Homo sapiens: one gene and its partners. The gene in region 1 interacts genetically with each later gene. Each region holds a gene or a part of one and is shown on either strand. Other genes may lie near its edges. The genes, in order: MAPK8IP1, TSPO and ITGA6.

Region 1 (4,156 bases):
GAGGTTGCCTTCTGCACGGAAGGTGCCTCCAGCTCCTTGCTAGGTGCCGCACTGAAGGAAAGGGGCCAGCATGACTGGTCGGCAGTCCAGATTTGCAAATAGGACTCCACGAGTTGTGGCACAGTTTGCTCTGCACGTTTTCTGCCCTGTGGACAGGGTCTCTAGGGTTCTCTCGAGAGACCAGAGAAGCCAATGAGGTTTGACCAGAGGCTCTACGACCCAGCAAAGCTAAGGCCCTAGCCTTGGCAGTCCGTACTCTGAAATAACTCAATCGGGAAACTCAGGGACTTGAAGGCCTGGAAGCCCAGGAATAACACCCTCTCGAGGGAGAGACAATGAGGAAGAAGCCATGGCCAAAGCCTAGCAGGGATGGAGGTGCCAGAGGGAACAGAAACAACCAAAATGATCCCAAGAAGTCAACAGTGGGAGGAGAGGGAAAGGCGCCAAGTCTTAGAATGTGTGTCTGTGGGTGCAGAAGAGGGGTGCTCTGCAGGAAATGCAGTTGAGGCGCTAAGAAGGAGAATGCTGGGAAGGTCCTGGCGAGAGACCGAGAAGCCTGGAGGGCTCAATTCACCACGAGTAGCTGTTTGGGGCTGAAGAGAGATTTGGGTCAATCTTTAGAGAAGACAGCCTCTAGGGAGAGTCTTTGGGAGGGTCCCCTCAAGGTAAAGGGACAGGACTGGGGTGAGGGCTGGATCCCAGCGCAGGAGGTGGAGTGTTTCTGGGTCTCAGGCAACACATTTGTGTTACGTTACATTCTCACAACAACCATGAGAGGGACTGCTATTGTCCCATTTCACAGATAAGAAGACCAAACCTTAGTGCTCTGAAGTCACTAATGCAAGGCCCCACTGCCCAGTCACTTGTGGAGCCAGTGAATTCACACCACCTGACTCCAAACCTGTACACTTTAAGAGCCCACTGACATCCTCTCCTTTCTCTGCCTTCCTCCACGACCCTCCTTTTCCGCCTGCCTTCTTGGTCTCTGCTGCGGGGGGCCAACCTGGACCTTGGGGTCCAGTGTCCTGCCATTAGTCATCTGATACCCGGGCACTAAGCCCAACCGGAGGGACAAAGCCCACACCGGCCACGGGGTGGAGGAGAGTCGATGTCGGATTTAGGGCGGGGCTGAACCAAGCCCAGGGCCGCGGGGGCCGTGGCTTCAGCACCGCGGAGAGCGCCATCTCCGGGGGCGGGGCTGGCGGGGTGGGGGCGGGGCCTGGGCGGGGCGCGCGAGACCCCGGCCGGGTCCCGGGGGCGCGCGCGGGGCGCTCTCGCCAGTCCCGCGGGCCGTGCGCGGTGCTGTGCCGCGCCCTGCCAGACACAGGTGCGCCCGCCTAGCCCGAACTCCGCGGCGGCGGCTGCCCTCTCGCCGCGCCTCCGCCTCCTTCGCAGCCGCCGCCTCCTCCGCGCCGCGCTCCGCCCGGATGGCCAGGGCTGTGCCCGAGAATGGCGGAGCGAGAAAGCGGCGGCCTGGGAGGGGGGGCCGCGTCCCCGCCCGCCGCCTCCCCGTTCCTGGGGCTGCACATCGCTTCGCCTCCCAATTTCAGGTGAGAGTCCCCGGCCGCCGCGCGCCTCGCCCTTCAGCGGGGACTGATCCGCATTGGCTGCCCTGCCCGCCCCCCACCCCAGAACCTCGGGAACCCGGGAACGAAAGGGCTGCGTGGGAGTGGGGTCTCTTCCCGGGACAGAGCCCCCCTCAGAAGCCCCGCCAGCCTCAAGTCCGGACTGGTAGCCGTTGCATGTTCACGAGGCTGTTCCCTCCGCCATTCCTGGTCCTAGGCTGGGAGGTCTGCGCTGGAATTGGAGGAGGGGGCTCGGAGGCCTCCTTCTCCCCAACCTCCGGGCTGCGGCAGGGTCTGGGGTCGGGGTTGCGATCCCGGAGCGGGCAGGCAGGCTGCATCTTAGCCTGTGAATAGAGCTGGGAACAGCCTGGAGGGGCGCGGGTCGCAGTTTCCTGGGGCAACGACATTGTTGGTGCTGGGAGGAGGATGTTTGAGCCCCTCCCCGAGCCCTGCCTGGCCAGATGGGCCTACCTGCCAGGCCTGGCGTGGCCGGGCCCCTCTCTGGATTGGGCAGCACCGACCTAGGCAGGTGTGTCTCTCAGGGCAGGCGCTGAAGGCTCAGCCTCAACCAGGGGAATCCTAGGCCCGGCTGCGGGAAGGGAAGTCGGCTCGGCTCTGGAGTAGCCAGGGCCAGCGAGGGTGTCGAGGGGATCCCTGCTGGGGTAAATACCCAGAACCCTGACCTGAGCTCCTATTCCACCACCCCCACCCCCCAATCTGGTGTTAGGCCCGATGCATTTCAGAGAAGTGAGGGGTGAGTGTTGTGTGGAGGAGGAATAGATGTACCTCCCCCATAATTCTGAACCCTAGTTGGTGGGGAGGAAGAGGCCGAAGTCACTGCTCCCGGCCTAGAGAGGGAGGCTTAGACATACCCCATTGTTTCCCCATCTCGAGAACTGGCGCCTTCCCCTCTCCTGGGGCACCACCCCAGCCAGGCTCCAGCTGGGCTGTGGTGCCAGCCCCTCCTGGGAGCAAGGGGTCACTGGCTCCCAGGTCCTCAGGTGGGCAGAGACCCCTGGGGATCTCTAATAGCATCATCAAACTCAGAAACCTTCCCTGAGGCCCTGAGCTGAGCTGGAAGGACCAGAGGGGGCCAGATGGAGGAGGCCAGGCCTGAAGGCTCCAGGGCTGCAGCTCTCTGATAATGCCTTAGACTGAGGTCTGAGACTCCACCTGGCATGGTGCATGAGGCCTCCATGCAAATACTGCCTCCCCACCTGGAGGCCTCTGCAGTGGAAGCACATGGGGCTTAGAGGGACCTGGGTTCAAATCCTAGCTCCACTACTTTCTAACTGCATGACCCAGGCAGGTTTTTGTCCTCTCTGGGTGCCATCTGTTAAGTGGGCTAATTAATATTGATTCTTGCCTGGAAAGGAGAAAAAGCACATCAGGTCAGTGTTCAACAAGTGTCAGCCCCCACACTAGCAGACAACACTACGGCTCGCTGCTGTCCAGAGTGTCTTCCCAAGGCCCCTCCTTTAACCCTCATAACTGCCCCAAGAGAGGGTAGTGACCTGCCCATTTTATAGATGAGGTGATTGAGATTAACAAAGGCAGGGTGGCTCATCTGGAGACTACAAAAGAGTCAGAGACTAAGGCTACACTGGGACCCAGGTCTGTGCGTGTTTAGTCCACTCTACGTCCCAGCCCTGCCTCTGGCCCAGTGGGCAGCTTTTCTTCCTCGACCTGCTTCCCCAGGTGTCATAGATGCTTTAATGAGAGGAGCTGAGGAAGCAGACACCAGCCAGTGAATGTGTGGCCAGCTCTGCGGCATGTGGGACAAGGGTGGCAGTAGGCCACGAGGCTGAGGTGTGGGCCAGCACTCCAGAACATGGTGGCCTGGCTGCGGAGACAAGGCCAGTGCGTGGGAATAATAAGCGTCAGTGTCTCAGGCCCTGCCGGCCTGCCCCGCTGCTCCCAAAGCCCCCGCTGCCCTTTCTCCTGGCCCGCCTCTCACTGTGCTTGGCCAGGCTCCACTTAACCCTGGGTGGGTAGATAGTGCTTTCTTGTGGCTCTTTGGTGGAGTCATAGATCCAACTGGCCTGGGTTTGAATCCTGGCTGGCCCTTCTTACCTGTGTGCCCTGACACTGGGCACTTAAGCCCTCTGAGCCTCTGAGATGCCAGCACTGGCCCCTGCTCAGGATGGTCCTAAGAATCAGATGAGATAACACGTGTTGAGTGTTTCAAGGGCTGAGGAGAGCCGCCTGTAGGCAGGGCTGTGTGTGTGCACACACACACAGGCGCCTTGACCCCCAGTGCCACTGTCAGCTCCCAGAAAATAAAGGGGGTCTGTACCCAAACTTTGGTATCCCCATTGCTCAGCACGGGATAGTTACTCAATAACAGTGGTAAGCGCTGACATTTGGAAGGCACTCAGTTCGCCCAGGCACCATTCTAAGAGTTTCCTATGTGCAAGAGTATTTACTCCTCCCAATAACTGTATCAACAGAGCGTTGTTATTATCCACACTTGCATGAAGAAACTGAGGCAGAGGGAGGTTAGGTAAGTGGCAGAGCTTGTAAGTGGCAGGCAGTCTGATGTCAGAGCCACCCCAAAAAGAAAGAGCCCTAGAGTATTGGAAGAGCATGTG
Region 2 (4,437 bases), on another chromosome or scaffold:
TGCCTCCTGGGTTCAAGAGATTCTCCTGCCTTAGCCTTCCAAGTAGCTGGGATTACAGGCACACACCACCATGCCCAGCTAATTTTTGTATTTTTAGTAGAGATGGGGTTTCACCATGTTGGCCAGGCTGGTCTCGAACTCCTGACCTAGTGATCCACCCACCTCGGCCTCCCAAAGTGCTGGGATTACAGGCATGAGCCACCGTGCCTGGCCAGAAGGAATTTTAAAAAAGAAAAAAAAAAAAAAAAACAAAGCTGCCAGGTGCGGTGGCTCACGCCTGTAATCCTAGCACTTTAGGAGGCCGAGGCAGTGGATCACTTCAGGTCAGGAGTTCGAGACTAGCCTGGCCAACATGGTGAAACCCCATCTCTACTAAAAATACAAAAATTAGCCGGGCATGGTGGCAGGCGCCTGTAATCCCAGCTACCGGGAGGCTGAGGGAGGAGAGAATCACTTGAACCCAGGAGGCAGAGGTTGCAGTGAGCCGAGATTGTGCCATTGTACTCTAGCCTAGGAGACAAGAGCGAAACTCCGTCTCAAAAAAAAAAAAAAAGAAACCCAGAAGAAAAAGATGAATGAAGAATGGAACCAAGCCTGGGTTATCCTTGTCTTCAGGCCAACACAGTAAAAAATAGATTTATGTATGTTTGTTTTTTAATAGAGGAAGAGGCTCACAAAGGCAAAAATGCCAGGTCCTAGGAAAGCCATACTGCAGCCTGGCTGGTCCCCAAGGAGGCTCCTGGCTTCTGTGTCTGGGTAGAAGTAGCCACAGTTCTCCTTGGACCCTGCAGGATCAGTTTGGGCCAACGTGGCTGGTTCAGGCTGATGGGGCGTTGCCAGGCTGAGTTGTCTGGAGGGAGCTGGGACAGCCTTGAACTGCAGCAAGACAGCCATAGTGCCAAGGGCCTGGGGCTGGACACACCCTGCATGGGAGTGGACCTGGGCAGCTGGAGGCCACCTCTGGGCTGTGATGATGGCAGCCTCCCCTCACTGAGCGCCGAGCATCTGAGGGGTGTCCTGCCTGCATCACCGCGTTGCGGCCTCATCAGTCCCACGACTTTGTGCCCATTTTACAGATGAGGAGATGGAGGCCCAGAGAGCCAGTCAGAAAGTGGCTGGGCCAGGACTAAGAGTGCAGCGCGCTGCCTCCGTGCCCTGCGTCAACAGCTCAAGGAACTGGGGTGCTCCGGAAATGGGGCCAAGGCTGCTGGGCAGCAGGACGCTCAGGGCCTTGGCCTCAGGAGAGGTAATTCCCCACTCGGAGATCGGTCTTGTTGCTGCATTTTATAGATGGGAAAAGTGAGGCTAGAAGAGACGACAAACGACACGCCGTTGGACACACGGCAACGTTTTAGATGTTGGGTCTGGCCGGGCGGCCGTCACCGGTCACCATGGGGAGGAGGAGGAGCCGAGAGACTTGCTCGCGGCCGGGGGGAGGCAGAAGCGCGTCCCGCGGGAGAGGTGGCTTTGAGGAGTGAGCTCCCGGTCCCGCGGGGACGCGAGTGGGCCCAGTGCCCGGGCTGCCAGGCGGGGCGGGGCGGGGCCGGGCGACTGAGAGGGGCGGGGCCTGGCGGCTGGGAGGGGCGGGGCGGATGCGGGGACAGCGGCCTGGCTAACTCCTGCCAGGCAGTGCCCTTCCCGGAGCGTGCCCTCGCCGCTGGTGAGTGAGGACGGGACGCGGAGGGGGCAGCGGGAAGTGGGGGCCCGCATGGCTGCGACTCTTGGCAGCGCCGCGGGACAGAGGGAAACTGAGGCCGGAGCCGCAGACTGGACACCCGAGGGGGCGACCCGGGGCAGCACTTGGGGCTCGGCTACCGGGTCAGGGGGCGGCGGGCAGCAGAGTCTGGGCCTCCGCGGCCGGGGTTCCAGCGCGGGCCGCCTCCGGCTGGGGGTTCGGGAGGGAAAACTTGGACAACCCTGCCACGCCCAGCCCTTGGCCGCGTGGCTTCTCCTGCAGGAAGCGCGGTCCCAGGAGTGGCCGACGCTCCCTCTCCTGCCCATTCCGCGGATGGGCAATCCCAGGCGGAACTCCCTTGAGGGTCTCAGAATATCTGGGAGACCTCGGGCTCTTGATCTCCGAGACACCCCGTTTCGTAGTGGAGAACAGTCCAGATCGGGGAAGTTTATTTTGCCCAAAGCCGGTTAGAGGCCCCCTGGCCCTCGATTCCCAGTGCGGGGCTCAGGTGCGTTGCAGCCTAGACGGGTCTTACTGTGAGCCGAGCAGCCTCTGGGACCTGTCTGCTTCCCCTACCCCTTGCAAAGAAGCCGGAGCCCAGGTAGGAGAAGCGGGGGCTTCCTGCTGTGAACGCGCTGCTGGCCAGGGCAGCTGCCAGAGGCCATGGCCTGGCGTGGGCCTGGAGCCCCTCTGGCCAGCCTGCCAGGGGCCAGGGCTACGGGATACCAGCAGCGTGCCCTGGGCTGGATGGCAGGAGAGACAGGACTTGAGGCTGTCCCAGAATGGGCTCAGGCAGGGCGAGGATATCAGGGGAGGTGGTGTACAGGAAGCAGCCGCCCAGCTTGCCTGGCACACAGCAAGCCCTGCCCATGAAGGCCTACTGCCAGAACAGTGGGCGAGGCCCGGCGTCTCTGTGGAGTCGGTGGGGCCCGGGACAGGGCAGCCTGAGGCAGGTTTCCACTGGCGGTGAAAGGGGCCGTGTGGCAAGGACAGGAGAGCCAGCCTCAGCCCAGCAGGGGAAGGCGGCCCCTGAGTCTCCACCTGGCTGCTGGCAGCCCCACAGGGAGGTTCGGCGAAACTGAGGCTTGCCAAAGAAGCCTTTGTCCAGAGTCACGCAGCTGGCGCGGTGGAGCCAGGGCCAGAACCCGTGCAGGCTGATCCCAGCCTGCCTTCTCCACTGTGCCCCGAGGACCACTTTCTTTCCTGGGAGTGTGTGTGTGCACATGTGCTGTGTCCTGTCGTCTGTACACACTTGTGCCTGGCGTGAGGCAGGATGTCTGGCTGGATCTACCAGAAAGTATTCACAGCGGGTTCTCCAGCTGGGGTGAGGGGCTTGGGCTCGCAGGGAGGGAGCCTACTTTTCACTTTAGCTTGCTTTCTTCCTTTCTTCCGTCCTTCCTTCCTCCCTCCCTCCCCTCCCCTTCCCACCCCTTCTTTCTCTTTCTTCTTTCTCTTTCTTTCTTTCTTTCCTTCCTTCCTTCTTTCCTTTCTCTTTCTCTTTTTTTCTTTCTTCCCCTTCCTTCCTTCCTTTCTTGTTTTTGTTTGTTTGTTTGAGACAGGGTCTCACTCTGGTATGCAGGCTGGAGTGCAGTGATGCAATCATAGCTCACTGCAGTCTCCTGCAGAACTCCTGGGCTCAAGCGATCCTCCCACCTCAGCCTCCCAAAGTGCTGGGATTACAGGCATGAGCCACTGTTCCTGGCTTATTTGTGTTTTCTTTTTTTTTTTTTTTTTTTTTTTTTTGAGACGGAGTCTCGCTCTGTCGCCCAGGCCGGACTGCGGACTGCAGTGGCGCAATCTCGGCTCACTGCAAGCTCCGCTTCCCGGGTTCACGCCATTCTCCTGCCTCAGCCTCCCGAGTAGCTGGGACTACAGGCGCCTGCCACCGCGCCCGGCTAATTTTTTGTATTTTTAGTAGAGACGGGGTTTCACCTTGTTAGCCAGGATGGTCTCGATCTCCTGACCTCATGATCCACCCGCCTCGGCCTCCCAAAGTGCTGGGATTACAGGCGTGAGCCACCGCGCCCGGCTTATTTGTGTTTTCTTTACTTTTGATGGTGCAAACAATGCTTGGATGTGCTCTCTGTTTAAAACGGTAGTCTTTTTTATTTTTTTTTTTAACCACTAGACCACTAGGGAAGTCATTCTTAATTTCTTATTTTTATTTATATATATATTTTTTGAGACGGTGTCTCGCTCCATTGCCCAGGCTGGAGTGCAGTGGCTCCAGCTGGGCTCACTGCAACCTCCGCCTCCAGAGTTGAAGTGATTCTCCTGCCTCAGCCTGGCTAATTTTTATATTTTTAGTAGAGATGGGTTTCACCATGTCGGCCAGGCTGTTTCTTTATTTTTTACTAAAAAAAAGTTTAACCCCCGAACCTCGAAGGAAAGGGAAGTAGTCTTTCTTAACAGAACCAATTCCCCCTGGATACCCCACCCTCACCCTACCCTCTCCCAGGCCACTCGATGGCCAGGTTCGCTGTGGATTTTTCCAGACCTGTGGGCTGTTTCACTGGTTACTTTTGTAATGAAAAATGCACACAAAGGTTACGATGAGGACGATTAGCCATGAATCATTTTTAAAAAGCCTGAAAACAAGTCCCTGGGACAGTGCTGGCTTCGTTGGAGAGACAAGGCTCAGGGGAGTGGGTGCAGCTGGGGGTCGGGGTGGGGATCAGAGAAGGGACACATTCCTTATTGTGTTTCTGGGTCGCCTTCTTTTTTTTTGTTTGCTTTATTTATTTATTTATTTATTTTGAGAC
Region 3 (3,330 bases), on another chromosome or scaffold:
CATGGTGGCGGGCACCTGTAGTCCCAGCTACTAGGGAGGCTGAGGCAGGAGAATGGTGTGAACCTGGGAGGTGGAGCTTGCAGTGAGCCAAGATCGTGCCACTGCACTCCAGCCTGGGCAACAGAGTGAGACTCTGTCTCAAAAAAAGGAAAGAATGTTGCCAAGTTGGAGGCAGGACCAGGCCTCTTGGCTCCTGGTTTATTCTTCTTCCCACCCTATTTACTAGCACATATTATTGAAAGCTGCCCAACAAAACTCTATACTGATGGAAATGTTCTGGAGCTGCAGCATCCAGTATGGTAGCCATTAGTCATGTGTGGCGGTTAGGCACGTGGAATATGGCTGGTTCACTTGAGGCACAGAGTTTTAAATGTAATTTAAATTAATTTCAATCTGAATAGCCTCACGGAGCCAGCAGCTCCCATATATTGTACAAAGTGAATCTAGGCTTTTACCTTCATGAGTTGCTGGACTAGGAATCAGAGTTTTTCAGGAGATTTTATTTGACCAGGTTAAATTTTATAAAAGACAGTTCCATGGCCTTATGAACTAGATAAAAGTAAATAGGAAAAGTTCTCTATCACTGAACGAAGGAAATTATAGTAGAAAGTGGAATTATACTTTTATACTCATTTAGAGTGACCTAACCTGAGGAGCATTGGGTCCCTACCATTTAAGGGTTTTATGGTGCTCAGAGTTTGGGAAAATGACAGCAATCATTCTTTCATGATGGTGTATTCGAATTTGTATTGTGATTCACCCCACAGATCCAAAGGCCTCAAGTAAATGGCATTTGTTCCATAAAATTTACTGTAAAAGGCAGAAAAATACCCATAGTATATCTATATTTTATTTGGATTTGTGCTTTTATTTAGAGAATTTATTTTCTAACCTTTGTCTCAATAAACTGCCGAAGTCAATCTTTTGCCTCTTTTGGAGTTCATATTCTCCTGCAGGAAGAAACTACCCAAAGCTACAATCAGCAATGTATATACGTTTTCCCTATTAGAATGATTTTTGTCCACAAGATTTCTGTTACAAAGAGAAAAATCAATGAGCTGACTAGTGTCATCCATATAAATATTTGACCAGAGATGTATGGTGAAGGGTGTATTGAATATGACAATGAAACAATGCAGTGGCTGTTCATTGTTGGTTGACTGAAAGTGGTCTGTTTGTAAACAAGCCACTAGTAGAAGGCAGATTAAAATTTGAGATGTTCTGTTGTTTGGCTCTTATACACAAAACTGTAAAATTGACTAAATACCTTGCTTCCTTGTAGTGTGGTTTCTTCAAGAGAAATAAGAAAGATCATTATGATGCCACATATCACAAGGCTGAGATCCATGCTCAGCCATCTGATAAAGAGAGGCTTACTTCTGATGCATAGTATTGATCTACTTCTGTAATTGGTAATTGATCAATGTTTTTTAATTGCTAGCTGTGGGACCCGCTATGGTTGTGGTGGCTAACTTTAAGAACAACAGCTTGCTATGTGTGTCCCATTAACAGATGTTTCCAAATGTCCACACTGGCTTGCCTTGCTTGGATTTGTTTTATTTTATTTCACTTGAAAGCTCAGTTTTTGTTTTTTTTAATGCACAGTCTTTCGTTGCAGGTGAGTTATTTTATGTTCTTGTTAAATATCTACCACAGCAATGAAGAAAATTTGCAATATTTGTACACACAAAAAGAGACTTTTAGCCCTCCATAGTAGCCCAGTTTGCAATGTGTTATTAATTCGGTATGTAGCATTCCACTAGGGAATTCAAAGATGCATAAGAAATCATTCTAGATTTCTTGTCCATTTTGGAATTTTCCACAGATAGAAGCTGTGTCGACCGCCTAATTAACCTGTTGCATGTTGGAAATGTTGTGTTTCTCTTGGTGAGGCTTCCTCACTGTCATCTTTTTGTTCTCTTTGCTATAAAGTGATGGGGAAGGCTTGGAATGCTTTTTACTGTTGCTCAGGAATCGTTTTATGCTAGCTAAGCATGCAACTTCCATTTCCTGCATGTCTCCTACAGGTCAAAGACCATTACAACAAACTGATTATCAGCATGATGGGCTTTTATGGCCAACTTCAGAAGATGATCCCTTACCAAAGTTACCTTCCATCTACAAAATTCTAGTACAAAAAATACCCTGAACAGTTTTTATTGCAATATGTTGTGATGGAGTTTGACCATATTTCATGTATCCAGAGATTTTATCCAACCTTGGATCTCAGTTGATTTTAAATTCAAGTTTCTCTTATTTGGAAATACATGGAAATAGGAATTGCTAGTGATCCCTTTCACCATTTACGTGGGCATGAGAGGACAGAATTACTCCTGTAATCCTTTCCATGGCACTATCACAGTGAATCACAACATTGCCATTCAGCTTTACATATTACCCTTAATTTCCCTCTTTGTTTAAATGGGGTAGACAGCAGTCATATTTTGTAATAGATAGGTACTTTGGCTTTTTTTTCTTTTTTTTTGCACAGAATAATAAATGAATCCATGTAGAAATGACCTGGAACAAAACATCTTGGTCCATTTTGCCTATTGATTTAGTGATAACTATACATATAATTTTATCTTGCTCCATGGCATTTTTATAACATAACATCATTCAACATAAATGTCCTGTTACTATTGACGTCACACAATAAACACATTAACAGTTCTATCAATATCCTCATTCTTCTAAACTGCATTTTAAAGTTGAAAACACCTTTTTTTAAAAAAAGTAAATATATTTCATTTAAAAATTTAATCTCAATTCAAATTTTTTCAGATATATTCTCAGTAAAAATATACTTTGGATCAGATTGACTATTTAAATGAATTTTATATATATATATAAACACACACATTAACAGTTTAAAGGTAAATGTATTTTTGCAAAAGAAGAGAAATTAGGGAGTGCTCTGAAATTCAGTGTAGTGATGCACTTCTGAAGTCCTATGCAGCACATGATTTTTATTGCAGGAAACAGTTACTATGTGATTAATGAAATAGCTTAATTAGAAGCACAATAGCAAATCCAGGCAACATAAATGACCTCCTGGCTAATGAGAGAAGTGATATGTGTACTAGAGCCTCAGAGGAGAGAAAAAGATTATAAAGTTGACCTGTTGGAACACTGGCATATTCAAATAGTAATTTGTAAAATACTTGTGACATGATTTGCATTTTATTAGTGGGAAAGGGGCATGAAATAATCTTTGGTTTATGCCATTTAAAAATTATTCTTAATCTAATCTGATAATCAGATATTTTACATATCATATTGTGATTATTTTTAAATATGGAAGCACTGTTTTCATAAACTCTTAAATTG

What was found.
Region 2: changes in MAPK8IP1 (region 1) and TSPO together harm fitness less than expected from each alone (positive genetic interaction), as found in Homo sapiens cells (one large-scale study listed by BioGRID).
Region 3: changes in MAPK8IP1 (region 1) and ITGA6 together harm fitness less than expected from each alone (positive genetic interaction), as found in Homo sapiens cells (one large-scale study listed by BioGRID).

The regions. Positions count from the first base shown.
Region 1 is NC_000011.10:45,884,372-45,888,527, forward strand, and holds the start of MAPK8IP1 (C-Jun-amino-terminal kinase-interacting protein 1), read left to right. Parts: upstream 1-1,279; 5' UTR 1,280-1,449; coding exon 1,450-1,550; intron 1,551-4,156. UniProt on the Homo sapiens protein: The JNK-interacting protein (JIP) group of scaffold proteins selectively mediates JNK signaling by aggregating specific components of the MAPK cascade to form a functional JNK signaling module. Required for JNK activation in response to excitotoxic stress.
Region 2 is NC_000022.11:43,149,945-43,154,381, forward strand, and holds the start of TSPO (translocator protein), read left to right. Parts: upstream 1-1,614; 5' UTR 1,615-1,660; exon of another isoform or gene 1,661-4,437. UniProt on the Homo sapiens protein: Can bind protoporphyrin IX and may play a role in the transport of porphyrins and heme. Promotes the transport of cholesterol across mitochondrial membranes and may play a role in lipid metabolism, but its precise physiological role is controversial.
Region 3 is NC_000002.12:172,500,490-172,503,819, forward strand, and holds part of ITGA6 (integrin alpha-6 isoform b preproprotein), read left to right. Parts: intron 1-1,282; coding exon 1,283-1,390; 3' UTR 1,391-1,412; intron 1,413-2,818; exon of another isoform or gene 2,819-3,330. UniProt on the Homo sapiens protein: Integrin alpha-6/beta-1 (ITGA6:ITGB1) is a receptor for laminin on platelets. Integrin alpha-6/beta-1 (ITGA6:ITGB1) is present in oocytes and is involved in sperm-egg fusion.